3 separate regions of the Homo sapiens genome follow, and regions 1 and 2 are each linked to region 3. Evidence: fine-mapped expression QTL. A gene starts in region 3. Each other region holds a variant in brackets. All regions are shown on one strand. Distances are from middle to middle.

Region 1 (9,906 bases), 20 kb after region 3:
GGCATGCGCCACCACGCCTGGCTAATTTTTGTATTTTTAGTAGAGACGGGCTTTCATCATGTTGGCCAGGCTGGTCTTGAACTCCTGACCTCAGGTGATCCGCCCGCCTCGGCCTCCCAAAGTTCTGGGATTACAGGCGTGGGCCACCATGCCTGGCCTGAATTCATACATTTCTAAGTGTGGCTTTTGCTTCATCTCATACATTTTAGTGTCATATTTTCCTTATTACTCAGTTTTCTGAGGCCCATTGTGCTTTCTATTTTGATTTATCAGTTATTTAGGAGAGTATTATTATGTTTTGAGACAGGGTCTCTTCTCGCTTGGGCTGGAGTGTAGTGGTATAATCGCAGCTCACCACAGCCTTGACCTCCCAGGCTCAGGTGGGCCTCTTACCTCAGCCTCCCAAGTGGATGGGACTACAGGCGCCACCACACCTGGCTATTTTTTGTATTTTTAGTAGAGATGGGGTTTCACCATCTCTACTAAACATGTGACCAGCCCAGGCTAGTCTCAAACTCTTGGGCTCAAGTGATCTGCCCGCCTTGGCCTCCCAGAGTTCTGGGATTACAGGTGTGAGTCACCATGCCTGGCCAAAGAGTATTATTTTATTAATATGGGGTTTTCTGAGGTATTTTTTGTTAATGATTTTTAAAAACTGTGACGGAGTTTACAGTTTTAACCATTTTCAAGTGTACACTCAGTGGCATTAGGACATTCATCATGTTATGCAACCATTGCCACCATCTAGTTCCAGAACATTCTCATCACCCCAGCAGGAAACTCCATACCTACTGTTGCTGGTTTTTACCTTAATTGCATTGTGGTCTCAGCACATTTTCTGCACTATTTGAATTTTTTGAAATCTGTTGAGATGTGCTTCACGGCACTAAGTTACTTTTTATGAAGATTGAATATTAGCAATTTGGTTTTTCCATGTTGATACGTGAAGTTCTAGTTCATTTATGTGGATGGCTGCATGGTGTCCCATGGGATAAACTATATTGAGGTAGTTTCCTGCTTTTTACTCTATAAACCATGATGCAGTGGACATTCTGGCATGTGTGTTTTTCTAATGTGAGAACTTGTGAGCATTTAAATCGAAGTGGGCTTGCTGGGCCTTAAGGCTGTTTATTTCTTCAGCTTCGCCAGATATTGCCAAATGGCCCTCCAGAGGTTGGATCAGTGGTCGGATCACCCTCTATGCATATGCGAGGGTTGATGACGCGCATTCTCCCCGTTCCTTGGCACCCACAGATTTTACAAACGTTCTTCAATATGGTTGTGATTTTAACTTGCATCTCCCTGGTTTCTTGAGAAACTGCACGTCTTTTCACGTGGTGATTGGTCATTCTGGTTTCTGCTGTGAATTGCTATTGTCTGTTTCTTCTTTGGGTTGTAATTGATTTGTAATTGTCCCACGTGTTTACTCTTGATACTAATCATTTGTCAGATATCTGGTTGCAAAAGGACTCATACAGTGTGTGGTTTTCCCTTTATTTATTATTTTTTTTTGAGACAGAGTCTCGCTCTGTAGCCCAGGCTGGAGTGCAGTGGTGTGATCTTGGCTCACTGCAAGCTCCACCTCCTGGGTTCACGCCATTCTCCTGCCTCAGCCTCCGGAGTAGCTGGGACTACAGGCACCCACCACCACACCCGGCTAATTTTTTGTATTTTTAGTAGAGACGGAGTTTCACCGTGTTAGCCAGGATGGTCTCGATCTCCTGAACTCATGATCGGCCCGCCTTGGCCTCCCAAAGTGTTGGGATTACAGGCGTAACGCACCGCACCCAGCCTTCCCTTTTAAAAAATGGGTTCAGCCAGGTGCGGTGGCTCACGCCTGTAATCCCAGCACTTTGGGAGGCGGAGGCGGGTGGATCACCTGAGGTCAGGAGTTCGAGAACAGCCTGGCCAACATGGCAAAACCCCATCTCTACTAAAAATACAAAATTAGCCAGGCATGGTGGTGTGCGCCTGTAATCCCAGCTACTCGGGAGACTGAGGCAGGAGAATCGCTTGAACCTGGGAGGTGGAGGTTGCAGTGAGTGGAGATTGTGCCACTGCACTCCAGCCTGGGCAACAGAGCAAGACTCATCTTAGGAAAAGAAAATTTTAAAAAATACAGTTTAGTAGAAGGAATACGTTCTAGTGTTCACACAATATGGTGATTATTGTTATCAGTATTTTTTGTATATTTCAAAACAACTAGAAGATTTAGTATGTTCTCAACACAAAGAAGCGATAGATGTTTGAGGTGATGGATACCCAGTTACCCTGATTTGATCATTAAACATTTTATGCATGGATCAAAATATCACACGTACCCCATAAATATGTACAATTATTGTGTATCAGGTTAAAAAAAAAAAAGGCTCTTATGTGTAGCAGAAGGGCAGACATGGTGCAGGCAGGCCAGAGACCTAACAGGAATTTGCAGAGCTCCAGAGCCTGAAGACTCAGCCCCGGCAGATTGCTTAGGCCAAGGGCAGGGGCGTGGGAAGGAAAACCTGGCATCCGGAAAACGGAGCCATCTGAACGGATGCCCCTGATGCTGCTCTCCAGCCCAAACTCTCCAGGGTGCAGAGGGTGGCTGCCTCTCCATAGGAAGGTGAGGGCTTCTGCTACTGGAAGAGTCTGCGGAAGCCGCTCCCAACAAGGCCACAGGTGCCCCTCTGCAGCGGCCCTCACCTCCTCTCCTGGCTGCCGGGCCCATGACTGCGGTCGAAGCCCAGTGTCACCCAGCTGGGGACAGGCTGGAGCTGATGAGAAAGCGACGCTACACTGGTATTGGTTTTCTACTCTAGCAACACATCACTACACGCTTAGTGGCTTGAAGAAATACCCATCTTAAAGGGCCAGGCACAGCAGCTCAGCCCTGTAATCTCAGCTCTTCGGGAGGCCGAGGTGGGAGGATGGCTTGAGCCCAGGAGTTCAAGAGCAGCCTGGGCAACACAGGGAGAGCCCATCTCTACAAAAAATAAAAAATAAATTAGCTGGACGCAGTGCCGCATATCTAGAGTCCTAGCTACACAGGAGGCCAAGGAGGGAAGATCACCTGAGGCCAGGGATGCAAGACCAGCCTAGGCAACATAGTGAGACCCTGTCTCTACAAAAAAAAAAAAATTAGCCAGGCTCAGTGATGCATGCCTGTACTCCCAGCTACTTGGGAGGTTAAATTAGGAGGATCACATGAACCCAGGAGTTCGAGGCTACAGCGAGCTGAGATTACACCACTGCACTCCAGCCTGGGCAGCAGAGCAAGGCCCTGTCAAAAAACCAAAAAAAAAAAAAAACCAAAAAAACAAACCCATCTCATAGTTTTCATGGTTCAGGAGTCTGGGCGTGGCTTAGCTGGATGCTCTGTCCAGGGTCTCACAAACTGAAAGCAAGGGACTGCAGTCTCATCTGAAACTCCGTTCCCTTCCACGCTCACGTGAGCATTAGCAACATAGCAAGGCCCCATCTTAAAAAAAAAAAGATAAACATATAAATACTAAAAGAGTCCGAGGAAGTGAGACGGGCGAGTCAGGGGACTCATGTTTTTGGTACGAGATTTTAATACAATTTGATTTTTGTGTATTTTATATTTAATACACAAAATGAAAACATGGCATACCAAAACCTATCATACTCAGCCGGGCGCGGTGGCTCACGCCTGTAATTCCAGCACTTTGAGAGGCTGAGGTGGGAGGATCACGAGGTCAAGAGATTGAGACCAGCCTGGCCAACATGGTGAAACCTCATCTCTACTAAAAATACAAAAATTAGCTGGGCATGGTGGCATGCACCTGTAGTCCCAGCTACTCAGGAGGCTGAGGCAGGAGAGTCGCTTGCACCAGGGAGGCAGAGGTTGCAGTGAGCCGAGATAGTGCCACTGTACTCCAGCCTGGGCGACAGAGCAAGACTCCGTCTCAAAAAACAAAACAAACAAAAAAAAAAACTATCATACTCATGCTGATGAAATTTAAAATCTACATAAATGATTTATCTTCCAGGAAAACAAATACACAGAATTGATTCTAGAGAAGGCAGAAAAAACAAACAAACACAAAAAACAGACCAGTAAGACTAGAACAAATTGAAAAGGAGTTAAACATTTGTCCCCACAAAAGGCATCTCCTAACAGAGTCAGTGGAAATGTAACTCAACTGGAATTGCCTCTCAGAGCAGGCGGAAGGGTAAATTGGTACAATTATTGAGGAGAAATGCTGTATTCCAACAATGAGCATACATACAACTATAAAAAAGAATGAACTACTGACCATAAATTGCTAACATGGCTGAATCTTACAAATGTAACATTAAGCAAAAAAGGTTAGGCTCAAAGCTGGGCACAGTGGCGTGCACCTATAACCCTGGCTACTTGGAGGCTGAGGTAGGAGGATTGCTTGAGGATGCTCCAGCAGTTGGAGACCAACCTGGGAAACATAAGGAGACCCCCATCTCAAAACAAGCAAACAAAGTTAAATTTAAAAAAAGGTAGGCCAGACATGGTGGCTCACGCCTGTAATCCCAGCACTTTGGGAGTCCGAGGCAGGCGGGTCATGAGGTTAGGAGATCAAGACCATCCTGGCTAACAGAGTGAAACCCTGTCTCTACTAAAAATAACAAAAATTAGCTGGGCGTGGTGGCGTATGTCTGTAATCCCAGCTACTCAGGAGGCTGAGTCAGGAGAATCGCTTGAACCCGGGAGGCGGAGGTTGCAGTGAGCCGAGATTGCACCACTGTACTCCAGCCTGGGGGACAGAG[C/G]GAGACTCTGTCTCAAAAAAGTTTATAGTCAAGACTTCATAATGTATTCACTGTATTACATGAATTTCAAATGCAAGCAAAACTAATCTGTGGTGACTGAAATTAGAACAGTGGTTACCTTGGGGGCCACTGACAAGAGGCACAAGAGAAGCTTGCTGGGTGCTGGAAAGGTTTTATATTCTGATCCGAGTGGTGGTGGTTCAGGTATAGTCATGTGGAAAGAGTCACGAAGGCTGTACACTTAAAATAGGTGGACATTAATGCTTCCAGCTCAGTATTTTTTTTTTTAATAAAAAAAAAAAAACACGGTATCTGGCCCAGATGGCTCTATTGAGAGTTCTAAAAGAGGCAAGAGGAAAGGCCAAGGGTTTCCACAGTCTGCGTTTCTGTTGTGAGCAGGCCTGGCTTACTCAGTCTTTGCTGCTCTCTGGGAGTGCCTGGAGCTATGGCACTGACCTGGGACAAGCTGAGAAGGAAACTCTTGGAAGGTGCATGTAGTTACTGATGAATGTTAATCTGTAGGCCTGGTGCACTGGGGCAGGATGAGCAGCCTGTCAGATGTCAGAATGTTTAACATCAAGATTTAGGATGTGCGGCCGGGCGCGGTGGCTCACGCCTGTAATCCCAGCACTTTCGGAGGCCGAGGCGGGCGGATCACAAGATCAGGAGATCGAGACCATCCTGGCTAACACGGTGAAACCCCCGTCTCTACTAAAAACAAAAACAAAAAATTAGGTGGGTGTGGTGGCGGGCGCCTGTAGTCCCAGCTACTCGGGGCCGGGGGTGGGAGGCTGAGGCAGGAGAATGGCGTGAACCCAGGAGGCGGAGCTTGCAGTGAGCCAAGATCGTGCCACTGCACTCCAGCCTGGGGGACAGAGACAGACTCTGTCTCAAAAAAAAAAAAAAAAAAAAAAAACTTAGGATGTGCGTCTGGCCTCTGTTTTGGAGTGCTGTGTTTTGGTTACCATGGCTGGTCATGTGGCAGGAAAGTGCCTATGTGACCATCTTCTTAGAACAACAGGTTTTGAGACCTGGGTGTTTCCCTGGGCAGAGACATCTCACATCTCTGTGGTTCACACCTGGAAAGAAACACACCGTGCAGCCTGCTCTCGGCCTCCCTGGACTTTGTCTATGTGTATCTTTCTCTCTGGTCCCGTGGTGTATCCTTCGCTTAGTCAACCTTAGCTGTGATATAACCTCATCAGGTCATGTGAATCCTTCTAGTTAATAACTGAAGTAGGAAGGGGTCCCGATTCATCCGCCATAGCCCCCAGCTCTGCCTCACTCAGGTCTGCTGTGCTCCCCTCTACATTTGCTCACAACCGCCTTCTCTCCCTAGAATTTTCTTCTGATCTTTAGTTCCCTGAATCAATATGCTTTCCTTTAATCTCTATAGCACTCAGGCTTTGGCTAAGGCAGGAAGCCAACAACCTATATGCTAGTTCACCACCTTGGGGCAAACCAGAAGTCACCCACTATTAAAAAAAATTGTTTATTGCTGACATATTTCGTTTTTATTTCTGTTTATCTGGTTATGTTGAAGAACTTCGTTAGTTCTTTCAATAGATTATCCACTCAGGCCGGGCATGGTGACTCACACCTGTAATCCCAGCACTTTGGGAGGCCCAGGTGGGTAGATTACCTGAGGTCAGGAGTTCGAGACCAGCCTGGCCAACATGGTGAAACCCTGACTCTACTAAAAATACAAAAATTATCCGGGCGTGGTGGTGCACGCCTGTAATCCCAGCTACTTGGGAGGCTGAGGCTGGAGAATCGCTTGAACCCGGAAGGCGGAGGCGGAGGGTGCAGTGGAATGGTATGGTGCCGCTGCACTCCAGCCTGGGCGACAGAGCAAGACTCTGTCTCAAAAAAAAAAAAAAAAAAGCCTTTTTTTACACTCCTCGATACCAAGGCTCTCTGGTGCTCACACTTAGCCGTGAACTGCTTGTTCACAGTTCTCAGTTTCTCACTTGCTGCAGATAGAGCATCAGGACGATTGAGCAGTGAGCAGCCACCTCGGCACTTTCCCTGGCATTGTCCCACCTCCACCCTGGATAGCCTTCAAATTCTGCATCATCACAGCTGCCACAGCATTCCCTCCTCCAGGACATTCCCAGGTCACCACTGATCAGATCTTTAGCAATGGAGCCACCACGCTGGGCTGGGATCTATTTATGCCACCTACTGACCAGAACACCAGAACACCTTGATGTGGGTCATTTTTCATTCATTTAGCTGGGCACGTGGTGGGTCTTTCCATCTAGAGATCCATGTTTTTTTCCTCCATGTTCTTTAATTCTTGGAACTATTACATTATTTCTTTGATAATTTTATTCACTTTTTTTTTTTTTTGAGACAGGGTCTTGCTCTGTTGTCCGCACTGGAGTGCAGTGGTACAATTATGGCTCACTGTAGCCTCAGGCTCCTGGGCCCAAGCAATCCTCCCACCTCAGCCTCCCGAGTAGCTGGGATTACAGGCATTTGCCACCAGACCTGGCTAATTTTTTTTTATTTTTAGTAGAAACAGAGTATTGCTATGTTGCCAGGCTGGTCGCAAACTCCTGGGCTCAAGTGATCCTCCCATCTTGGCCTCCCAAAGTGCTGGGATTATGGGTGTGAGCCACTGTACCCAGCTTGATTCACTCTTTTTTTTTGGTTTGCTTTCTAAATTCCTAGAAGTCTGATGTTGTACTTTCTTGGTCGAACCTCTAATTTTCTTTTCTCTCCTATTTTCCTACTTTGACACTCCTATGTTTGAGCAGATCATCGATTTTATTTTTCTATTCTTATTTGTTTGTTCAAAAATGTATATTGAGCACTTATTCTAGGTGCTGGAGATACAGCAGAGAAAAAGACAAAGCCCTTGTTTTTTGTTTTTTTTTCTTTTTTGAGATGAGGTCTTGCTCTGTCACCCAGGCTGGAGTGCAGTGGCATGATCATAGCTCACTGCAGCCTCAAAGTGCTGGACTCAAGTGATCCTCTGCCTCAGCCTCTCACATAGCTGGGACTACAGGTGCACACCACCACACTAAGCTAATTTTCTTTAATTTTATTTTTTTTTAAGATGGAGTTTTGCTCTTGTCCCCCAGGCTGGAGTGTAATGGCACAACATCGGCTCACTGCAACCTCTGCCTCCTGGGTTCAAGCGATTCTCCTGCCTTAGCCTCCCTAGTAGCTGGGATTACAGGCACCCGCTACCATGCCCAGCTAATTTTTTGTATTTTTAGTAGAGATGGAGTTTCACTATGTTGGCCAGGCTGGTCTCGAACCCCTGACCTCAGACAATCCACCTGCCTCAGCCTCCCAAAGTGCTGGGATTACAGGCGTGAGTCACTGCGCCTGGCCTTTTTAAAATTTTTAGTAGAGATGGAGGTCTCACTATGTTGCCCAGGATGATCTCAAACTCCTGAGCTCAAGTGATCCTCCTGTAACCCCAAAGTGCTGGGGTTATAGGGATAAGCCACTATGCCTGAACCCTTGTTGATTTTGGATTCCAGTTTTTTTTTTTTTTTCTTTAAGCAACAGGGTCTCACTCTATCATTCAGGCTGGATTGTAGTGACGTGATCACTGCTCACTGTAGCCTCCAATTCCTAGGCTCAAGAGATCCTCCTGCCTCAGCCTCTCTGTAGCTGAGACTACAGGTGGCGCCACCGTGACACACTTATTTATTTTGTAGAGACGGGGTCTTGCTATGTTGCCCAAGCTGGTCTCAAACTCCTAGCCTCAAGAGATCCTCCCTCCTTGGCCTCCCAGATACTGAGATGATAGGCATGGGCCACTGCGCCTGGCAGTTTCTTTTCTTAATTCTTCCCAGTCACACTGTGTGGTAGTGAGAGAAGGTGGTCAGTTGTTTTCACTTTTCTGAATATGAGGCCTTGTGAGAATCGAATACATGGTCCGTTTCCATCAAGAGTCCATGAGAACTGAAAAGGTTATGTTTTGTATGATGGTAGAGATTAATAAAATTGAACGAATGTTGATAATTTTATTCTGATTCATTCATTCATATTGCAGCAGCTACTATATCTAAGATACTGTGCAAACCATTGGGAGAAACAGTGGGTGAGCAGAAACAATTCCTTTTTTCACAGTCCTTGCAGGCAAGCTAGTGCTGGTGGTGCTAGTGGCAGACACTAATCACATCGCAGCCTCAATGGGATGCGTGCAACGCAGGAGAGGAGCAGAGTTCTAGGAGAGACTAAAATAGAGGAACCTGAGCTGGAATGCTGAGTCACAAAAGGCTTCCCTGACCAGGTGACAGCTGAACTGAGATCTGAGGGATGAGTTGGCGTGAATGAGACAAAGAGCCTAGAGATGGACAGCCCAGGCCTGGGAAATGGCTTGTGCAGATGCCCTGTGGTGGGAGAGAGCATGGTCTTCAAGGAATGGAAGAATGGCTGGAGGACGGAGCGGGAACACGGCGTGAGATGAGCTGGAGAGGCGGACAGCCATCTCGGGTACAGTCCTATGGGTCACATAGATTTCTGCCTTGTCCTGGAAGTGACAAGGAAGCCTTTGGCGCATTTGACTCAGAGAGATGGTGTACAAATGTTTTTGTTTGTTTGTTTTTACAGAGTCTTTCTCTGTCACCCAAGCTAGAATGCAGTGGCACAATCATAGCTCTCTGCAACCTCAAACTTCTGGCCTCCAGTGATCCTCCCATCTCAGCCTCCCAAAGCACTGGGATTACAGGCATGAGCCACCACACCTGGTCTGAAAATATTTGTTTTGAGGCCAGGTGCGGTGGCTCATGCCTGTAATCCCAGCACTTTTGGGAGGCCAAGGCCGGTGGGTCATCTGAGGTCAGGAGTTTGAGACCAGCCTGGCCAACGTGGTGAAACCCGGCCTCTACTAAAATACAAAAAATTAGCCAGGTGTGGTGGCGCATGCCTGTAGTCCCAGCTACTTGGGAGGTTGAGGCAGGAGAATCGCTTGAACCCGGAGGCGGAGGTTGCGGTGAGCCGAGATTGCACCACGGTGCTCCAGCCTGGGCGACAAGAGTGAAACTCTGTCTCAAAAAAAAAAAAAATTGTTTTGAAAAGATCCCCTCTGGCTGTGGTGTGCAGCGCAGTGAGGAGGTGTGGAAAGAGGAGGTTGGTCAGAGTGGAGAGTTAGGAGGCTCCTGTAATGATCCAAGAGGGAGATGATGGTATCTTGGA
Region 2 (9,635 bases), 41 kb after region 3:
CAGAGGGGCATTTGACATGTGTCCCCAACACCCGGTTGTCACCACAGGTAAACCAAGACTATAATCACAACAGCAAGGACAGGATTGTGTTGCTTTTTTCCTTTTTTTTTTTCTTAAAGGAGTGAGGGCATGGAAAATATACAGCACACCAATGAAACAAAATGTCAAAAAAAAAAATACAAAAAAATAGAAAATAGAAAAATGTATTTACAAGTAGTACGTTACTATGATGAGAAAGCACAAAGACACCTGCTGCTATAATACATGCATTGGCTCGAGAAGAAACTACGGAACACCCTGCGAGGGAGAAGCCTAGAAAAGAAAGAAAGGGCCAAAAGGTTTGAACTCTTCATCCCTAATTTGCTACACTGATCAAAACCAAGTAAGGGCTCCTGAAGTCCATGAGTCTATCATCAATCAGCACAAATGCTATACTAGTTTGTAACTGCGGGGTCAGTTGTGAAGGGGAAGGACAGCAGCTTATCCATATACAAGGAAGCCACAGTAAACTGCTCGACATGCTCAAAACGACAGCAAGCCCCTGTCAGCTACACAGCGTGATCTTAGCAGGATTTCATTTTTGTTTATTCATATATATCTATGTGTGTGTTTATATATATATATGTACGTATGTATAAAAACCGTGCCCTTGTTCACTGCCAACACAACATCTGGGTGGACATGAACTCATTACAACAAATTCTTATGTGGATGTTGTAAGAAGTCACTCAATGTCTGTGGATTTAATAAGTCACTTCACACCACAGAAAATATTTAATAAATCCAAAAAAAGGAAAGAAGAATATAACGACAGAAGAGCTTCTGTCTCAGTTCTCTGAAACTGAGTCCCCTATAGGAAACTGGTCCCAAAGTTCTCGAGGGGTCATTGAAGAAACTTCGGTTTGCTAATTTTTTTCATCCTTTTAGTGTTCAAAAGTTCTAGAAAGACTCCTCGCTGTTTTCAGTTTTTAAACAGTCAAATCTCCATCTCCCCCAGAAGGTAACAGTCTGGTGCAGATCCATAAAAACGTGGGAGGAAGGCGCGCTGGGGAGAGGCCTGTCCCTCTTGGAAGGGGCCCCACCTCTACATCCGCAGGAAGAGAAGGAACCAAACAGGGCTCCAGCACCTCTCTCCTGCAAACGAGCTCCCTTTAAATGCCAAATCCAGTCACACGGCAGTTCCTTAAACACAGGTACATTTCTGAGTACCAGGCCAGCTCTAAGAGGAAACAAACCATGAGTTGAGAGAAAAGGACTATGACGGCCATCTGGTCACTTTCCACGTGATCCATCATACTTCCAGGAATCGGGAGCTGCTGGACTTGGAGTGGAAAGGCTCAGACCACATCCGCCGGAGGTCGCCCTGGGAAACAAGGGACTTTCTAAGTTACAGATTTAAACATGAGGCACACACAGCTGTCTGATTCTTTAAAAAAAAAAAATTTTTTTTCCAGGTATGAAGTCTTCCTATATATTGGCCAGGCTGGTCTCAAACTCCTGGGCTCGGGCAATTCTCCTGCCTCGACCTTCCAAAGTGCTAGGATTACAGGCATGAGCTGCTGCGCTTGGCCCCTTTCTGATATTTTTTTTTTTTGAGATGGGTTCTCACTCTGTCACCTAGGCTGGAGTGAGTGCAGTGGCGAGATCTCAGCTCACTGCAACCTCCGACTCCTGGGTTCAAGCGATTCTCTTGCCTCAGCTTCCTGAGTAGCTGGGATTACAGGCACTCACCACCATGCCCAGTTCATTTTTGTGTTTTTAGTAGAGACAGGGTTTCACCATATTGGCCAGGCTGGTCCTGAACTCTTAACCCGCCTGCCTCAGCCTCCCAAGGTGCGGGGGTTACAGGCGTGAGCCACCATGCCCCTGGCCCCTTTCTGATGCTTGATCTGAGATCAGATTGCTTCTGTGGGAAACCAAAGAGCATTTAAATCTTACCCATTCAAAAATAACCCACTATTTTTAGGAGGACTCCCTAGAAGGGGTGCTTTTAGGCTCCCTGAGCAAGAAAAGGGCTTTTATCAACTCTCTAGAGGTAGTGAGTCAAGTGAGCTGGGCAAGTAAGTTGACCTCTGTATCTGCTTCCTCATCTGTAAAACGGGGCTGAGAATAGATATCTGGGAAATAATGTGCTCTTGAACTCTGGTTTTATCATATGCTGCCTCAACACTATTCAATCTTAATTATTCCCAAACTTTAACGTAGTGTTAAGCTGTTAGGTGGCAGGAGGGCACTGCTTTGAACAGAAGCAGGAAGTACCCTCAGCTGGGCTCTGGGGCTTTCAATTAGTTATTCCTCGACCAGGTGGTGTAGTGGTCTAGCTCATCAGCATTTTCTGTCAGTGGCTGCACGAATCTGGAAGCGTTTGCTAACGCCAGGGTAGCGCGCGCGCGCACACACACACACACACACACACACACACACACACACACACAGTCGAGATCACAAGCTCACTCAGGGGCTTAAGCAGAATCACCTCCAGCGAGGAGAGTGCAAACCGAGGCACAGGCCAATCCAAGTTATTGCTTTCACAGGTTTATAACTGCTGCTCTCACCTTTAAATAGGCCATCGTGAGGAGTGGCAATAAAGTAAATGGCACCAAATAGAGAAGGGCGGGCTGGGCGGCCCGGTGAATGCGAGACGCCACAGTAGCAGTGAGCAGGCCTGTGAGGAGAGAGAGGCATCTGTGAGACACGAGAGGGAACCCGTGTCACCTGGCTGCTGCTGGGCAAAGTCCTGCAACTGTACAGATCTAATGTGCTGTCGTCCATTCTATGGTTGGGGTGTGAAATGCCCAGCTTGGGCAGTTGAAGAAATGTGGATCAGCACAGCTTTAAAAAACACCTACAACTCCAAGGACACATGACTGACCCAAGTCTCACTCCTTGCTCAGGTTCCTGGGTTCAAACCCTCCTTCCAGCTCCAAGTGTGCCTCTGTCTCCTGTGATGCTGGACTTGGGAGGCAGAAGACCTGGGTTCAAGTTCCAACTCTGCTACTCACAATAGCTAACATAAATGTAGTTCAGACCTTCCACCTCTCTGAGCCTCAGCTTGCTCATCTGTCTAATGGGGATAATGCCACTTGCCTTGCCCCTCTGAGTTTGTGGACTGAAATGAACCCATGTGAATGAACTGCTGTGGGACGAGGACAGTGCTGGGGTTGAGGAGGACGTACGGAGTGCAAAAGCTCCTTTCCAGTCACTGTGCGGGAGCAGTTGCATGTGCGGGCAGGTTACTGCTTTTCCCAGCCCCATCACAATCATCTCCTGTCTGCCTACACATGAGCTGGCTACAAAACTTGGCCTAGGTCAGAGTGGCAGAAATGTAGAACTAATGAATGTAAGTAAGTATCTATTGAATAAAGTAGGAAATAAATACGACAGTCATTCAACTCTAGAGGAAGATTTAAGCACAGACTAATCCACTGCACTGTGTGCTGTGTGTCCTTGGCTTTGAGGACTGACCTGCTTTTCCTACAACGTTCTTCAGATACACAGCTGGAGAGGGAACTGGCCTATCCAGTACACAAAACACTTAGCATCTCACGGGCCAGGCTGTCTATTACA[G/A]CACCCAGAATTCCTGCTCTCCTTCCATCCAGTAACTGTAGCTAGAAGACCTGATTTAATTCCAAAGGTTGGAGGACAGCCAGAGCGAGGATCATCTGCAGTCTCTCTGGTTCTCTTACCTACAAAGTATCCGATGAGGGTGCAGTGAAAGTAGGAGACCTTCTGCATGCGCCCGGAGATGTTGGCAGGTCCAGGGGCCCCACAGGAGTCCCCACTGGCTTGCTTTTTGTAGTTGTCATAGCGAAGGACAAAGCATAGTAGGAGACCAGGCATAACGATGTCTCCGATGCCCAACATGGAGAAGTGGCTGCCAGTGGAGCTGGAATGCAGTTTCACAGGTTAGTGACGTCACACTCTACAATCCAGTTTCTATTCCTTTTGTGCAAAGTTTGTTAGCTTTTTAAGGAGTCAAAGAGCTTATCTGCATGGCAGATGGAAATCTCTTCTGATGGAACATTAGTTTTAAGAGTGTAGAGAGAAAAAGCTGCAACAGTACTGGCACTAGAGGTCTCCACCTTGGCCCCCCTGTTTCAGGAGAGCCCCTTGGAAGTGACTGCTGAAGTGATTTGCATAAGTGCTGCTTCCTCTAGAAATGTCAAACAATTCATCATTTGTGACACATTCACTGTTGAGACTTCAAATAAGCACCTGGCTACTATTACAGGTGGAAGATTAAAGCAGCACATTCATTCTGCCAAGATTATATTACCAGGAGTTGTATAATTCTACCATTAGAACTTATTTTTATAAATATCTTACAAGTTAAAAGGATCGAGATTCTCCTAACTCCCTCCAGCCAACTCTAAACAGTGGAAACAGCAGTAAGGCATGGCTGTTTGCTGACATTAATCAATAATAAAAGGCACCGCCTGGATCACTCAGTGATCCTTCTTGGCAAGCCAAGAATCTCATCCTCATTTCCTCTTCTGCAGCATGGAGATAATGGCCCCAGGTTGGGATCAGAATGCTGATGACATTAGAGACTGATCAAGGCCGGGAACAGATAGGCACAGGAAGACAGTGTGGTCCTGTCATAGCATGAGGTCTTACCTTGGGAAGACCAGTTTTCCAGGCAGAGACAGGCGAGGAACATCACGCCCAACATTGGGCCCCAGGTGGAGCTTCCGGGATAGAACGTCAAGGGGATTGTCAGCCGGCTGAGTGGCCACCTTCACCATGACGTTGCTATTGAAGATGTAGGCTGAGAAAAATACCTGCCGAGTTGGAGAGATGCCTTTAACAGAGGGAGTTGGAAGCAACCTGCTTTCAGCATCAGCCCTCCTTGCTCTTAAGAGCAGAGTCTCAGAATGCTGTGACTGCAATGCTTTCGTTGACTGTATGATTTGAGAAAATCTTTGCTCTTCCTGTGTACTTGCCAATTTCTGCACTCTCCACACCCAGAGATTACTCCCTGACGGGGTGGCCCCCACTGCAGCGAATCTTGTCAGCCTGTTACCTCTTCTATCCTAGGAGTCACACACACACACTACCTACTGTACGACTTTTCAGCAAACAAAAGGATCGGACTGCACACCCATGATACAGTTAAGGACTGGAGAGAGAGTGATCAGCAGCTGGGCAAGCCCGACTTTGGATACTTCTAGTTAATAGTTTTCAGGCATGAATGCTTCACTTCAACACAAAGAAGGGGAGGAGCTCCAAGGACATAAACGCTTACCCAAAAGACATCATAGATGAGAAGCCCTGAGAGAAGCAGGCAGGAGACCTTGAGGCTCGGCAGGCGGACAAAGGCGATCATGGCGACACAGAGGCCCATGGCCAGTGCTGGGGAGGAGACAGGGTACAGCAGACAGCAGTCAGTGTGGACTCCAGGCTCATCCTCTTTCCACAAGCTATGGCCCTTCACAGAGTTTGCAATTCCCTCAAAAATCAGGCAGCCCTAAGCTCCAGCTTCAGAAACTTACATGCAACTGGTGCAAAACACCCGCTTCTTCAGCCTGTTTGGACTTGTGGAATTTGGGGTGATTGCTTTCCTCCTCCTAGACATAGTGCTCGGCTGTTGGAGACCCAGGAAACCAGTCCAAGACCTCCAAGCTCTCTTTTCCTGCCTTCCCTCCAATGTTGTGGATGTGTTGTCCTTGCTCCCTGCTTTAAAGTGAACTCACACCCTAGATAGCACCCCCTTTCATTCACTGGAGGCATCATCCCAGCAATTCATTAACTGCGTTATAGAAAACTAGAGAATACAGTAAAGCAAAATAAAAAAATTACATTCCCACTTTTCAGAGATTACCACTGTTCAATATCTTCCTAGAATTTTGTTTTTCTTTTTGGAGATGGAGTCTCGCTGTATCACCCAGGCTGGAGTGCAGTGGCACAATCTCGACTCACTGCAACCTCTGTCTCCTGAGTTCAAATGATTCTCCTGCCTCAACCTCCCGAGTAGCTGGGATTACAGGCACCCACCACTACGCCCAGCTAATTTTTGTGTTTTTAGTAGAGATGGGGTTTCACCATGTTGGCCAGGCTGGTCTCGAATTCTTGACCTCAGGTGATCCACCTGCCTTGGCCTCCCAAAGTGTTGGGATTACAGGCATGAGCCACTGCACCCAGCCAATAATTTTTTACATACTTTTTTTTTTTAATCTAATGAGATCACACAATCTGTTCCCCCCCTCCACCAAAGCCAACAACCCCCAGTTTCCATTTGGGTGAATTTTCACCTCATTTAATCAAATTTCTCTATAGACCCCAAAACATCTTTTGCAGATGGTTTGTCTGTGCTGGTTTCCAATCTGACATAGTCCACCCCACCACTTTTATTTTTTTTGAGACAGGGTCTTGCCCTGTTGCCCAGGCTGGAGTGCAGTCATGCGATCTTGGCTCACTTCAGCCTCTGCCTCCTGGGCTCAAGCAATACTCAGCCTCCTGAGTAGCTGGGACCACCGGCATGTGCCACCACACCTGGATAATTTTTGTATTTTTTGTAGAGATGAGGTCTTGCTATGTGGCCCAGGCTGATCTCAAGCAATCCTCTCACCCTGTTCTCCCAAAGTGCTGGGATTACAGGTGTGAGCCACCATGCCCAGCCTAAAGTCCTTTTTTTAATGACTTGCTGAAACTGGAGTCATCTGGATTTTTCTGTGCTTCTCTATTGCAGTGGTTGGCTTTTCCTCTATCCCATATATTTCCCATAAATTAGATGTTATCATTTGAGTGCTCGATCACTTCCAGCAGGGCTTTCATCCCTGCTACTCCACTGACACTGCTCCTGGGGGCTTGCCAAGGATCCCCTCATTGCTAGACACAGTAATCGACCTGTCCTCCTCTTACCCGACCTTTAGGCAGCAACCCGCCCAGCTAATGGCTCCCTCCTTTTCCCTTGATTCTCAGGACAATGTGCTCTCCTGTTCCTCCCCACTCACTGGCCTTTTCAGGCTTCTCTGTAGCTCCTCCTCAATTCCCAGAACTCCACGGGCCTTTCCTCAGATCTTTTCCTCTCTCAGTGATCTCGTCCAATCTCAAGGCTCTTGACACTATCTATCTTATATGTCATCAACTCACACATTTTAATTTCCAGCCTGAATCTCTTCTTGGAGCTCCAGACTCATACATCCTGTGGCCTAAGAGACATATATACTTGGCTGTCTAGTTGGCCTCTCAAATCTAACATGTCCAAACTCAGCTCTTAACAGTGCAGTCTTCTGTCTCCAAGCATTTACTCTTTGCTTCCAATTGTGCAGACGGAAATCTGTGATGTCGTTTTTGACCCGTCTCTCTTTTACACCCTGCCTGGCTTAAGCCGCCATCCTCTCCTGGCGTGCATTGCTGCAATGACCTCCTCCCTGGCCTCTCTGCCTCCAACTTAACCCCTAACAAGTCTCTTCTTCACAGTGCAGACAGAAGCAGCTTCTTAAACCCTAAGGCAGGTTTTATGGGGCCCCTAGCTCAAAACTCTTAAACAACTTCCCATAGAGTAAAAGCCACAGTCTTCATACTGGCTGACAAGGTCCTGCTGTGACGGTGACCCTTCAGGTCACCTCCTGCTACTTCCTTTGCCAGCCACAGCAGCCTCCTCACTCTACCCCCCATGCCGCCGCTTCGGCCACGCCGCCGCTTCAGTGCTCTGCATTTACTGTGCCCTCTGCCTGAACGATCTCCTCCCAGAACCCAACTGGCTCCGCTCCTCGTCTTTCACAGTTCTTCACGCAAGTACTAGCTTCTCAATGACAGGTGGACTTTCCTGCAATTACATTTAAGATCATACTTCCTGCCCTTGTCTTATTTTTCATTTCTCAACTTCTGATATACATAATTTCTTCTTTTTTTTAAACATTCTCACTGCCCTCAACTCCAGTGAAGGTTCCCCGAGAGCATGGCTCAGTGCTCACCCTTGTAGTCTAGGCCAGGGCCTGGCAGGTGCAGGGCCTCTCCCCTCCTTCAGCTCTCTTCCTCCACTGTTCTGCAAACACAGGTTTGATGAGGACACAGAGCTGTTGAGAAACTCTTCATGGGGTCTTGTGGTGGGATGAATGTCCAACTCCCTGGCCAGGGAGGGCACTCTCCACTGTACAGCCCAAGCCCTCAACACGCATTCCTGTGGCTCTGTTTTCTAGACAGTTCAACACAATTTCCCGCTCTCCACACATACTGTGTTCTTTTCACGCTCTACCCAGAAGGTCCTGCCCCCGGCTCCTTCATATGGAAAATCCATCCTCATTCTGGAAGAGCCAGGTCAGGAGTCCTTTCTCAGAGTCTTTCCTGATCCAACCAGTCAGTTGCTGCTGCTCTTTTTTTGTTTTTTTGAGACAGAGTTTTGCTCGTTGCCCAGGCTGCAGTACAATGGTGCAATCTCAGCTTACTGCAGCTTCCACCTCCTGGGTTCAAGTGATTCTCCTGTCTCAGCCTCCCGAGTAGCCGGGATTACAGGCATCCATCACCACACCCAGCTAATTTTTGCATTTTTAGTAGAGACAGGGTTTCACCATGTTGGTCAGGCTGGTCTCAAACTCCTGACCTCAGGTGATCCACCCACCCCGGCCTCCCAAAGTGCTGGGATTACAGGCATGAGCCACCGCGCCCGGCCCAGTTGCTTCTTCTATGTGATGTGCCATAGAACGTTGAATGTCTCTCAACTCACTCATCCATTCTATGACCTTGTGAATATTTACATACTGGTAAGTTTATTCCCTGTGCTAGCTGACCACGTGCTCCTGGGAAACAGAAACCATGTCTGATTCTTTCTGTGGATCCCTAGCACTTGACAGAGTAGACATTCAATAAATACTTGCTGAATGAATGCAAAACTGTGTTCTATTAACTTCAAATTTCAAATTATTCTAAGGAAAGTAAAAAGCCATATGAACAGATATATTTCATTTTCATAGAACTGGTGGTAAATTGTCAATATATGTAATAAAGTGGATAAATACAGCAGCTTGGCAGACCCTGGACACATCAACTAAATTACTGTTTCATGGGTTCCTACTGTGTGCACGGTGCTAATATAAACACAGAGGAGAAAAAGCTGCCTCATCCCTACAACTCAGAGGAGTTGGAAAGACAGTATTCAACCTAGGAAGAGCAAAATATATATCTTCATCTCCACTATCATCACTGTTATCAAGCGCTCACTGAGTTACAGGGTGAGCTGCAGTGTGAGTTCTGGAGAGATGTGGTCAAGATCTAATTCCTGACTTTATAATCATATAGAATGTTTATTATACTAAGGTCTCCTTTAATTTTTAAATAAATTCATACAACCAACCTGGTAAAATGTATACAAATGCATGTCATTTGAAATGAACCTAATGAAATGTATTAGTCAGTGAGGCTTGACAAAGCTCAGAGCATTCAGAGCTGCAAAGGGATGACTGAAACATGATGTTTAGGACACTGAGAGATGTACCCAGAGCCCCTGCTCTGATCAACTCACACGCATATTTGAAAGGACAGGACCTCCCATGATCATCATCTTTAGGAAACAAAGATTTGGTTGTGTCATGAGTCAATAACCAGGACATTACCAGGGAGCAGCTCATCTGGCTGGAGGAACAACAGTGGTCAGCAGCAGGTGGGAAGCCCATCGGGCCAGAGCACAGGTGAGA
Region 3 (9,906 bases):
TGCTTCTGAAAGTCTGGTGTTCTGTATCTGGGGCTGTGGGTTCCTGTGTCTAGCTGCTCAGGAAATCTTGAGAAGCATTCCACTCTGGGGTGTAAACCAGTATGAGTTTGAAATTCAAGCGTTTGTACCTGAGTTGGGGAGAGAATTGCAAGGCATACTTTCTCTGAAAGTAACAGAACCATTCAGGCTGCCATGTTATTAAGGAATCTGAACTGTTGATAGCAGTTACCTTGTGGGTGATACAATGGGAGGCGGCAAAAAAACTACCTGCATAGGAGACCCTGCCCTTTGTCAAGAGCTGGGAGCACATTTCATCAGAGTAGCAGGCCCACCTGGTGCCAGAGGGCCTGCCCCTCCTGCTTCTGTTCCTTTGCCTTGCAGTCTCCTGGAGAGAGCCTCTCTTTTCCTGTACAGCCTTTGGGCCAAAATGCCCTTCTAGCTTCTCCAAAGAAGATCCGAGTTTATTTCATTCTATGTTTTAAGAGGTAAAAGGACATAACAAGTGAAAGAAGTTTTGGGCTAAAGTAGGCTATGTCTCCTTATGTATTACTCAATACTGTTTTGCAGAGAAAACATTTTTCAAGCATGTGCTTCCTGAAGACACCTCAGTCTTTGGGCCATTTGATTTCCAATACATAGGGTGGAAGAATGTGATTTTGGGGCTGACCATAAACTGGAAATTTGTGAAATGGCAGTGATTGGGCAATCTTCAGTTTATTTTTTCAGTTGAAGTGGAACTCATTTCTGGAATGGATTTAATAGGCTGTGTCTAATGTACAAACTGGGTGAGTCCTGCCTTAGTGTGTCCTGCCCCACCGGTACGCTTCCAGGATACTCTTTTCCCCTCTGTAAAGTCACTTTCTTCTGATGGCCAGTGTCACTATGATGTCAGTGAGGTCTGGGGATGAGGACAGTGTGTCCTGAAATTCACAGGACTGACTCCTCACCCCAGTGCACGAGGATTCCTGTGGCATCAGGTGCTGCTGTACCTGGTGTAGGAGCCTAATCATTGAACCATTGTGTTACTCACATTCCATGTCACAGAACATATCAGCCTCAAGAAGGATTTGGTGGAGGTGGATTTACCACTGGTTTTACAAAGGACCGTGTAAAGTCATTGAAGTTGTGAAAGTCTATTTTTTTTCCTGTAAATCTATTTTTTACAGAATATAAGAAACATCAATGACCTGATCTGTCCTTCCTCCTCCTTCCCGCTTCCCCCAAAATCACATTCCAGTTTTTATTGTCTTTGTGTCCAAAGTAAACTAGGTGACTTATTTGTATAAAATGTTATTTTGCCACATGAGACAGTAATAAAAGAAAGATTTTCACAGTACGTCTCCCTCGTCCTGTCTCCTGATTGTTGGGCCCGTTGTGTTGCTGAGGGGAGCAGGGGCGAATGGGGGCTCCAGGTTTCTCTTACTTTGGCTATTATGTGGCCCTTCTGTAAGTAGTTGAACTAGAGTATAGCTGGCTTCTAGGGTGATTGAGGAATTGTACTGGACTTTAGGCTTAATATTTTTGCTTTATATTTTCCCAGGGTGAGTGGCTTTGTAAATTGAAAGTTTACATGCATGTTTTAAAGGTAGGGTTTTTTTTTTTGAGATGGAGTTTCGCTCTTTTTTCCCAGGCTGGGATGTGATGGCATGATGGTGGCTCACTGCACCCTTCGCCTCCCGGGTTCAAGTGATTGTCCTGCCTCAGCCTCCCAAGTAGCTGGGATTACAAGTGCATGCCACCACGCCCGGCTAATTCTGTATTTTTGGTAGAGACAGGGTTTCCCCATGTTGGCCAGGCTGGTCTTGAACTCCTGACCTCAGGTGATCAACCCGCCTTGGCCTCCCAAAGTTCTGGGATTACAGGTGTGAGCCACTGTGGCTGGCCATAAAGGTAGGCTTATTAAGAAATACTTTAACTACAGTAAAATTTACCTCAATTAAGAGTATTGATGCATTTTGACAAATGAATACTTTTATTACCCATCACAATCATGATATAGGACATTTCCATCGTACCCACTCAGAAAGTTCCTGAGTTCCTTGTGTTTGCAGCCAGGTGACTTCCCCCACTTCGCCTCTTGCAACCACTATCTGATTCTGTCTCTATTGGAAAACTTGGATACTTTTAAAATGAAATTTGAACGTTCATATTTACAGTCACAAATTCTCAAGAGTCTGGTTTAGATGCTCTGTGGCACCTGAAGCAATTATTGGCCTTTGCTCACAAACACAACTCACTTATTTCTCCCTTTTCTCCTGCTTCTTCATCGTTTCTTCCACCCAGGGCTGGTTCCCAGGTGGGATGACGGAAAGGTGAGGAAGCCCTTAGAGCATTTGCCAATGGGAGCCATTCATTTGACTTTAAAGTACTGAGAATTTAGAGGCGTTCTTTTAAATGCATTATTTAAAAAGAAAGGTAACACATTAAGGACTTTGCTGCATCTTTTGATTGGCTTTCTTCTAGGAAGTAGTGACCGAGGTTTCCACTTTCCTCCAAGAGGAAGAGACAGAAGTTTTGGCAAATAGGTCAATGCTGGGAACAGATGCCTGCCTGGCTGAGTGCTGGGAAAGAAAGGCAGTTGGAGGGATGTGTGGGTGCCTGGGAGGGCGTGGGTGGTGCCCAGGAGGCTATGGGAATCAGAATCACACTTGCACAAGAGAAGACCCTTATGGGACAAGTAAAATCAGCATAGTTTCTTGGGCGGGGCAAAGGTGTCCTGATGAGGATGCTAGGGGTCAAATATGTGTCTGGGTTCTGCCCCAATCGGGAATGAGACACAGTACTGAAGTGGAACGGGGGTAGCATCTCCACCCACCTTCACAGCCTCTGGGGAAAAGAAAGCTTTCCTTGCAGCCCAACTCCAGGGGCCTAAATATTGAGCACCAACACAAGACAGGTCCTTGAGCTTCTCGGAGCGAGTCGGGGAAGCAGATAATTTCAGATGCAAAGTGCCTTGAATAAACAGAACGAAAGATAGAGAGCCAGAGGGGGAGAAACGGCTTGGTGTGGTCAGGGCAGGCATCCATGAGACCTAAACGAAGAGGGGGCATTCCAGACAAAAGGAACAGTGATCACAGAGGCCCCGAGTCAGGAACCAGCTAAGGGTCTTAGAGAAGAGCTGCCTCGTAAAGCTAAGCAACAATAACCAGGGAACGGTGGGCATGGGCCCTGATAGACAAGGCAGGTCTTGGCTTTTTAAGCCATAGAATTGGATTTTAGGAGGGATGGGCCCGCCGACAAAGCCAACAAAGTTTTAACCCGAAGATCGCTATCTTATTTATGCTTTAAAAAGACCTCTCTGGCCTTTCTGCGAAGCTCTATCCTTAGCTTTCTCTTGTTAGCATTTTGATTAACGAATGTGGGCACGAACAGCCAGCTGACCGACCGCGCGCGCAGTCGAGCGTCGGTTCCTCGCCTTGGGAGGGACCACTGGAGGCCCCGCCCCCTGGCCGCGAGCGCACCTCGGCCCCGCTCCCGAGGCCCTACGGGCGTGGCCTCTGTCCCGGGTCCCGCCCCCCAGCACTCCGGAACAGCGCGCTCGCAGCGGGAGGTCGCGAAGCCTGGGACTGTGTCTGTCGCCCATGGCCGCCGCGCTGCTCGCCCGGGCCTCGGGCCCTGCCCGCAGAGGTGAGTGCGCTGGGGATCCGTACGGCGGGGCTTCAGCCCGCGTCTGGCCCAGCGGGCGGAGGTCCTGGCGGCCGGCTCTGTCAGAGCCGCTGGCAGGCGGAGCCCCACTCCGGGAGCGCTCACGGCCTTTGCCCCAGTTCTGCTGCTCCTTGCGCCGACCCAGCCCGGCCCTTCAGGCGTCCCTGGTTCCTGCACAGACCCCTACCCCCCGATTGACCCCAGCCACCAGCCCAGTTCCCAGTTCCCATATCTCCCTCCCTTCATTTCACCCCCACTAGAGGTTCAGGGTGCGTCCTTCTTCCGGAGCCAGGCCTGGGATTGAACCAGACCCGCATCTGTGACCTTGGGCAAGACAGCCCCTCCTCAGCCTCGGTTGGCCCATGTGTAAAATGTCCACAGAGAAAATCAGAGTTGTTGGGAGGATTAAATCATAGGGTATGTAAAGCACTTCGTGCCTGGCGTGTAACAGGTGTTCCACAAATGCTCGTTCTTGCTGGTTAATACAGTACCTTTCCCATCTTACGTGTCTCCAGTTGTAGCAGCCGTGACACATATAGCCACGGCTTCCTTTGCCTGGCCTGAATTACAAGGGGAACGCTACTGAGAACTGTGTTAAGCGCTAGTTAGTCTTTCTTTCGCACTCCGAGGAGCGGAATACTATTCGCCTCCACTTGTTATAGAAACGGAGGCTCACTGACGTTTAAAACCCTTGCCTAAGGTCACAGAGCTGAGGTCTTATTACTGTTGGTATTATACTGAGGACTGAAGGATGTAGTGTATGGAAATGTCTAGTGAGTGTACTAAGCATTCAGTTAGTATGGGGTTTTCAGTGGCCGCCATGGACATTTTGGGCTGACAGTTCTTTGTTGTGGGGGCTGTCCTCTGCCTTGTTGGATGTTCAGCAGGGATCCCGGACCCCTATCCACTGGGTACCAATAGTATTCCCCTGCTCTAGTTGTGACAACTAGAACTGGCTCCAGACATTGCCAGATGTCCCTTGGAGGGCAAAATCCTCCCTGGTGAGTTAGTGGGTCACTAGGATTCTTGGAGACCTCCTGCCTCCTCCTTCCACTCACTTCTGCCCTTGCCGGCAGCTCTCTGTCCTAGGGCCTGGCGGCAGTTACACACCATCTACCAGTCTGTGGAACTGCCCGAGACACACCAGATGTTGCTCCAGACATGCCGGGACTTTGCCGAGAAGGAGTTGTTTCCCATTGCAGCCCAGGTGGATAAGGAACATCTCTTCCCAGCGGCTCAGGTGAGAGTGCAACCTCAGCAGCCCACGATAGTGGTCTGCCCTCTGCTACTGGATGAATGGTGGCAGTGACAGTCAGCGGCACTCGGACTCTGGTAGAGGAACCCCAAAGCAGGGCCTGGAACCCAGAAAATGCTCTGGAAGTTTCCCTTGTCCAGCCTGTGGCCAGTAGCCAGGACTTAACTTCTGGGACAACAGTAATATGTGGTGGATGGTCAGTTGCTTACTGTGCCAGCCACTGTGCTCATTCTAAATAGTGCCTTTAGGGTGTTTGGCATGCACTAGGCACTGTTCTTGAGATGGGTTATCTCATCTGTTCCTCACAACGGTCCTGTGAGGTGAAGGTACTATTCTTATTTATTTTTTTGAGACGGAGTTTCACTCTTGTGGCTCAGGCTGGAGTGCAATGGTGCGACCTCGCCTCACTGCAGCCTCTGCCTCCTGAGTTCAAGTGATTCTCCTGCCTCAGCCTCCCAAGTAGCTGGGATTATAGGCGTGCACTGCTCTGCCCCGCTACTTTTGTATTTTTAGTAAAGACGGCGTTTCACCATGTTGGCCAGGCTGGTCTCAAACTCCTGAATTCAGGTGATCTGCCCACCTCGGCCTCCCAAAGTGCTGGGATTACAGGTGTGAGACACCACGCCCGGCCAAAGGTAGTATTATTATATACCCCATGGACTCAGACTTGTGAACAAGTTAAATAACATACCCAAGGTCATGGAGCTCATCAGCGGCAGCCTGCTCGACCTATTTTCTTTTTTATTTACTTATTTTTTTTTGAAATGGACTCTCGCTCTGTTGCCCAGGCTGGAGGGCAGTGGCGCAATCTCAACGCACTGCACCCCTCTGCCTCCTGGGTTCAAGCAATTCTCCTGCCTCGGCCCCCAGTAGCTGGGATTACAGGCGGGCACCACCACGCCCAGCTAGTTTTTGTACTTTCAGTAGAGATGGGGTTTCTCCATGTTGGGCAGGCTGGTCTCAAACTCCTGACCTTAGGCGATCTGCCCGCCTTGGCGTCCCAAAGTGCTGGGATTACAGGCGTGAGCCACCGTGCCCGGCCTGCTTGAACTGTTTTCTCCCCTGAGTTTCCCATCAGCGCGCTCCCTCCCGTGCCACTGTGTTCTTCCATTTGCATTCAGTCTGTCTGCAGCTACGCGTTGAAGATGTTACTGCCGTACACGCTGACCTAAAGATGTCCAGCACCTGGTGTAAACACTCAGTAGTAGATAGTTGTTTAATTAATGATTTGTGAAAAGTCAAACCTCTCCGGCCTCTTCTCCTTGCCTGTTTTTTTTTTTAATTTTAATTTTAATTTATTTTTTATTTTTAAAAATTTTTTGAGACAGTCTTGCTCTGTCACCAGGTTGGAGTGCAGTGGCGCGATCTCGGCTCACTGCAACCTCCGCCTTCTGAGTTCAAACAATTGTTTCCTGCCTCAGCCTCCCGAGTAGCTGGGATTACAGGCGCACACCACCATACCCGGCTAATTTTATGTATTTTAGTAGAGACGGGGTTTCACCGTGTTGCCCAGGCTGGTCTCAAACTCCTGAGCTCAGGCAATCCACCCGCCTCGGCCTCGCAAAGTGCTGGGATTACAGGCGTGAGCCACCACACCCGGCCTTAAAAATGAGTTTTAAAAGGGACGTAAAACATTGTTTTTATATGAGGGACCCACTAACCGTTTCCCAGATATGAAGGCAGCAGGTGCTGCAGGCTTGCCTTGTCTGTCACTGCTGGGAAAGGGGTCTTACAGTTTCTTACGGTTTCTCTTGGGAGTCTGGAGACCACCAGGCTCAGCCTCATCAGTGCTGTTGCCTCTTCTCAGGGTGCAGGTCAGGGTTGCTGGGTCACAGACACTAGGAACCAAGAGTGACCATTGCAGGGGGCTCTAGGAGGCCACCCCTTGAGATAGCTCTGAAGGTCAGGCCTCTCTGTAGAAAATACTAAAATATTGGGGCTGGGACGGGCGCCTGGCTGCTGTTAGTTAATTACCATCAATTTACATAGGTCAGAAACGATGGACAAACCCGAACCCATTTTTTTCCCTTGACTGCTTCTCTTTTTCTTTTTTCTTTTTTTTTTTTTTTTTGAGATGGAGTCTCACTCTGTCCCCCAGGCTGGAGTGCAGTGGTGCGATCTTGGCTCACTGCAGCCTCTGTCTCCCAGGTTCAAGTGATTATCCTGCCTCAGCCTCCCAGGTAGCTGGTACTACAGGTGCCCGCCACCATGCCTGGCTAATTTTTGTATTTTTAGTAGAGATGGGGTTTCACCATGTTGGCCAGGCTGGTCTTGAACTCCTGACCTCAGGTGACCTGGCTGCCTCAGCCTCCCAAACTGCTGGGATTACAGGTGTGAGCCACTGCTTAATTATATTTTGGGTTTCTCCTTTTTGACTGTCTCGTCTCTTCCCTCTCCTGCCACCCCTTTTTCCTTCCCTCGGTGCTGGTCTCCCTGTCTCTTTTTCAGGAGGCCCTTTAACGAGTGCACATTACCATGGTTATTGCTTTTGTCCCCACTTTTTTTCTAGAATGTTCCTGTAGCTGGCCACAGTTTGTTGCCTGAAATCTAGAGATAAATTTCAGAGTGAGAAGGCCTGGGAAACAGCCCCTGTCACCACTGATAAAATGGGGTGAGGTGACTGTGTCCAGGCTCTGGGATGGGATGGAGAAGGCTGTGCTCTTAGGTGCTGCCCCAGAGCGGTGCTCCTCTCTTTTGAAATTTGCTGTCTCAACACCAGAGTGGGAGTGAGTGGAACTGCCATGTCTTTCACAGCCACAGGTAGATGCTTTATTTTTTAAATTATTTTTGTGTGTGTGTGATGGAGTCTCGCTCTGTCCCCAGGCTGGAGTACAGTGGTGCGATCTCGGCTCACTGTAGCCTTTGCCTCCTGGGTTCAAGCAATTTTCCTGCCTCAGCCTCCCAAGTAGCTGGAACTACAGGTGCGCACCACCACACCCGGCTAATTTTTGTCTTTTTAGTAGAGACGGGGTTTCACCATGTTGGCCAGGCTGGTCTCGAACTCTTGACTTTGTTATCCGCCCGCCTGGGCCTCCCAAAGTTCTGGGATTACAGGCATGAGCCACCGCGCCCAGCTGGTAGATGCTGTAAAAGAAAATGCTGATGGTGAGAAAGGAGGGAAGACAGGAGCTGGGGGAAAATTGAGGGCGATGGTATATGCTAGTGAGGTCCTTTGGGTGTGGGAATTGTGAATTCCTACAACTTTTGATTCTAGCTCATTGAGAAGTGTCGCATTAGTCAGAGGGAGGCGGCGCTGTGTAGGGAGGAGGAGGCTGGGGTTCTGTCTTGCCTCCTGGTGGCCTAGACCTGGCCACTGACACCACATACCCTTTCTGTGTGAATTCCCTCATCTGTAAGAGGAATATGGGGTCACCCTCATTCTGCTACCTGTCGGGACGTGTGACCAAGCATTTTAGGTGAGTATGAGGAACTGAACGCACCTAGGAGAGTTTCATCCTTTTACTCTCTTTCTGGGAATTTGGGTTCCCACTGTGTTTCTGGGGATGAGATGGAGTTATGGAGCGATTGGCTCATGTGCCATTTATTCCAGGGTTTTATACCAACAAGTTCCGGGGTGAAAAGGAGGGTGTGTCTCTGTCCAGGGAGATCTGAAGGTGCTTGGAGGGTGAGGCGGCTTGAGCTAGTTTAGCCTTATTCTGTTTTGCTGGTAAGCTAGAGAAAAAGGCTTTTGGTGAGGTTCATGCCTAGGCCTGACCGTGAGTCTTGGACAACTGCATATTTATTTTTGTTTTTGTTTTTTTGAGACAGGGCCTCACTGTCGCCCAGGCTGGAGTGCAGTGACACAAACACAGCTCACTGCAGCCTTGACCTCCCGGGCTCAGGGCTCAAGTGATCCTCATGCCTCACCTCCTGCAGTAGCTGGGACCACAGGTGTGCACCGCCATGCCTGGCTCATTTATTTTTATTTTTATAACTTTTTGTGGAGATGGGGGTCTCGCCATGTTGATGAAGCTGGTCTCAAACGCCTGGACTCAGATGATCCTCCTACCTCCGTCTCCCAAAGTGCTGGGATTACAGGCCTGAGCTACCACACCCTCTTTTTAAAATTTTTTTAATTAAAAAATTTTCTTTTAGAAACAGGGGTATCATCATGTTGGCCAGGCTGGATTTGAACGCCTGGGCTCAAGTGATTCTCCTGCCTCAACCTCCTCCTGAGTAGCTGGAGACCTGCGTATTTCTAGCACTTGGTAGAGTATTGTCCAGCAGCAGAGGTGTTCCTTAATAAAATAGTTTTTTTTTTTTTTTTTGAGGCGGAGTCTCACTCTGTTGCCCAGGCTGGAGTATAGTGGCACGATCTTGGCTCACTGCAACCTCCACCTCCTGGGTACAAATGATTCTCCTGTCTCAGCCTCCCAAGTAGCTGGGATTATAGGCGCCCACCATCACGCCTGGCTAATTCTTGTATTTATTTTATTTTATTTTATTTTTTTTATTGATCATTCTTGGGTGTTTCTCGCAGAGGGGGATTTGGCAGGGTCATAGGACAATAGTGGAGGGAAGGTCAGCAGATAAACAAGTGAACAAAGGTCTCTGGTTTTCCTAGGCAGAGGACCCTGCGGCCTTCCGCAGTGTTTGTGTCCCTGGGTACTTGAGATTAGGGAGTGGTGATGACTCTTAAGGAGCATGCTGCCTTCAAGCATCTGTTTAACAAAGCACATCTTGCACCGCCCTTAATCCATTTAACCCTGAGTGGATACAGCACATGTTTCAGAGAGCACAGGGTTGGGGGTAAGGTCATAGATCAACAGCATCCCAAGGCAGAAGAATTTTTCTTAGTACAGAACGAAATGAAGTCTCCCATGTCTACTTCTTTCTACACAGACACAGCAACCATCCGATTTCTCAATCTTTTCCCCACCTTTCCCCCTTTTCTATTCCACAAAACTGCCATCGTCATCATGGCCTGTTCTCAATGAGCTGTTGGGTACACCTCCCAGACGGGGTGGTGGCCGGGCAGAGGGGCTCCTCACTTCCCAGTACGGGCG

The links. PIP is the estimated chance that this variant, and not a neighbour inherited with it, causes the effect.
Region 1: its variant is fine-mapped to the expression of ACADS in testis (GTEx, PIP 0.97).
Region 2: its variant is fine-mapped to the expression of ACADS in thyroid (GTEx, PIP above 0.99).

What each region holds. Positions count from the first base shown.
Region 1 is chr12:120,742,596-120,752,501 of GRCh38, forward strand. No RefSeq gene overlaps it. Among named protein-coding and RNA genes, the nearest start is that of ACADS, 22 kb to the left of the region's middle. RefSeq lists a silencer at 5,110-5,325. The variant C/G (reference allele first, on the strand shown) is at 4,747.
Region 2 is chr12:120,763,708-120,773,342 of GRCh38, forward strand. It overlaps SPPL3 (signal peptide peptidase like 3), which reads right to left. Exons shown (of 11, transcript NM_139015.5): 7 at 5,246-5,352; 8 at 4,618-4,781; 9 at 3,687-3,886; 10 at 2,556-2,665; 11 at 1-1,363. The coding sequence ends at 1,292. Among named protein-coding and RNA genes, the nearest start is that of ACADS, 43 kb to the left of the region's middle. RefSeq lists an enhancer at 7,595-8,095. The variant G/A (reference allele first, on the strand shown) is at 3,568.
Region 3 is chr12:120,722,305-120,732,210 of GRCh38, forward strand. ACADS (acyl-CoA dehydrogenase short chain) reads left to right here and starts at 3,522. Exons shown (of 10, transcript NM_000017.4): 1 at 3,522-3,627; 2 at 4,722-4,885. The coding sequence starts at 3,582. UNC119B (unc-119 lipid binding chaperone B) reads left to right here. Exons shown (of 5, transcript NM_001080533.3): 5 at 1-1,336. MIR4700 (microRNA 4700) reads left to right here and starts at 889; the gene lies at 889-962. RefSeq lists an enhancer at 3,194-3,695 and a silencer at 3,332-3,841.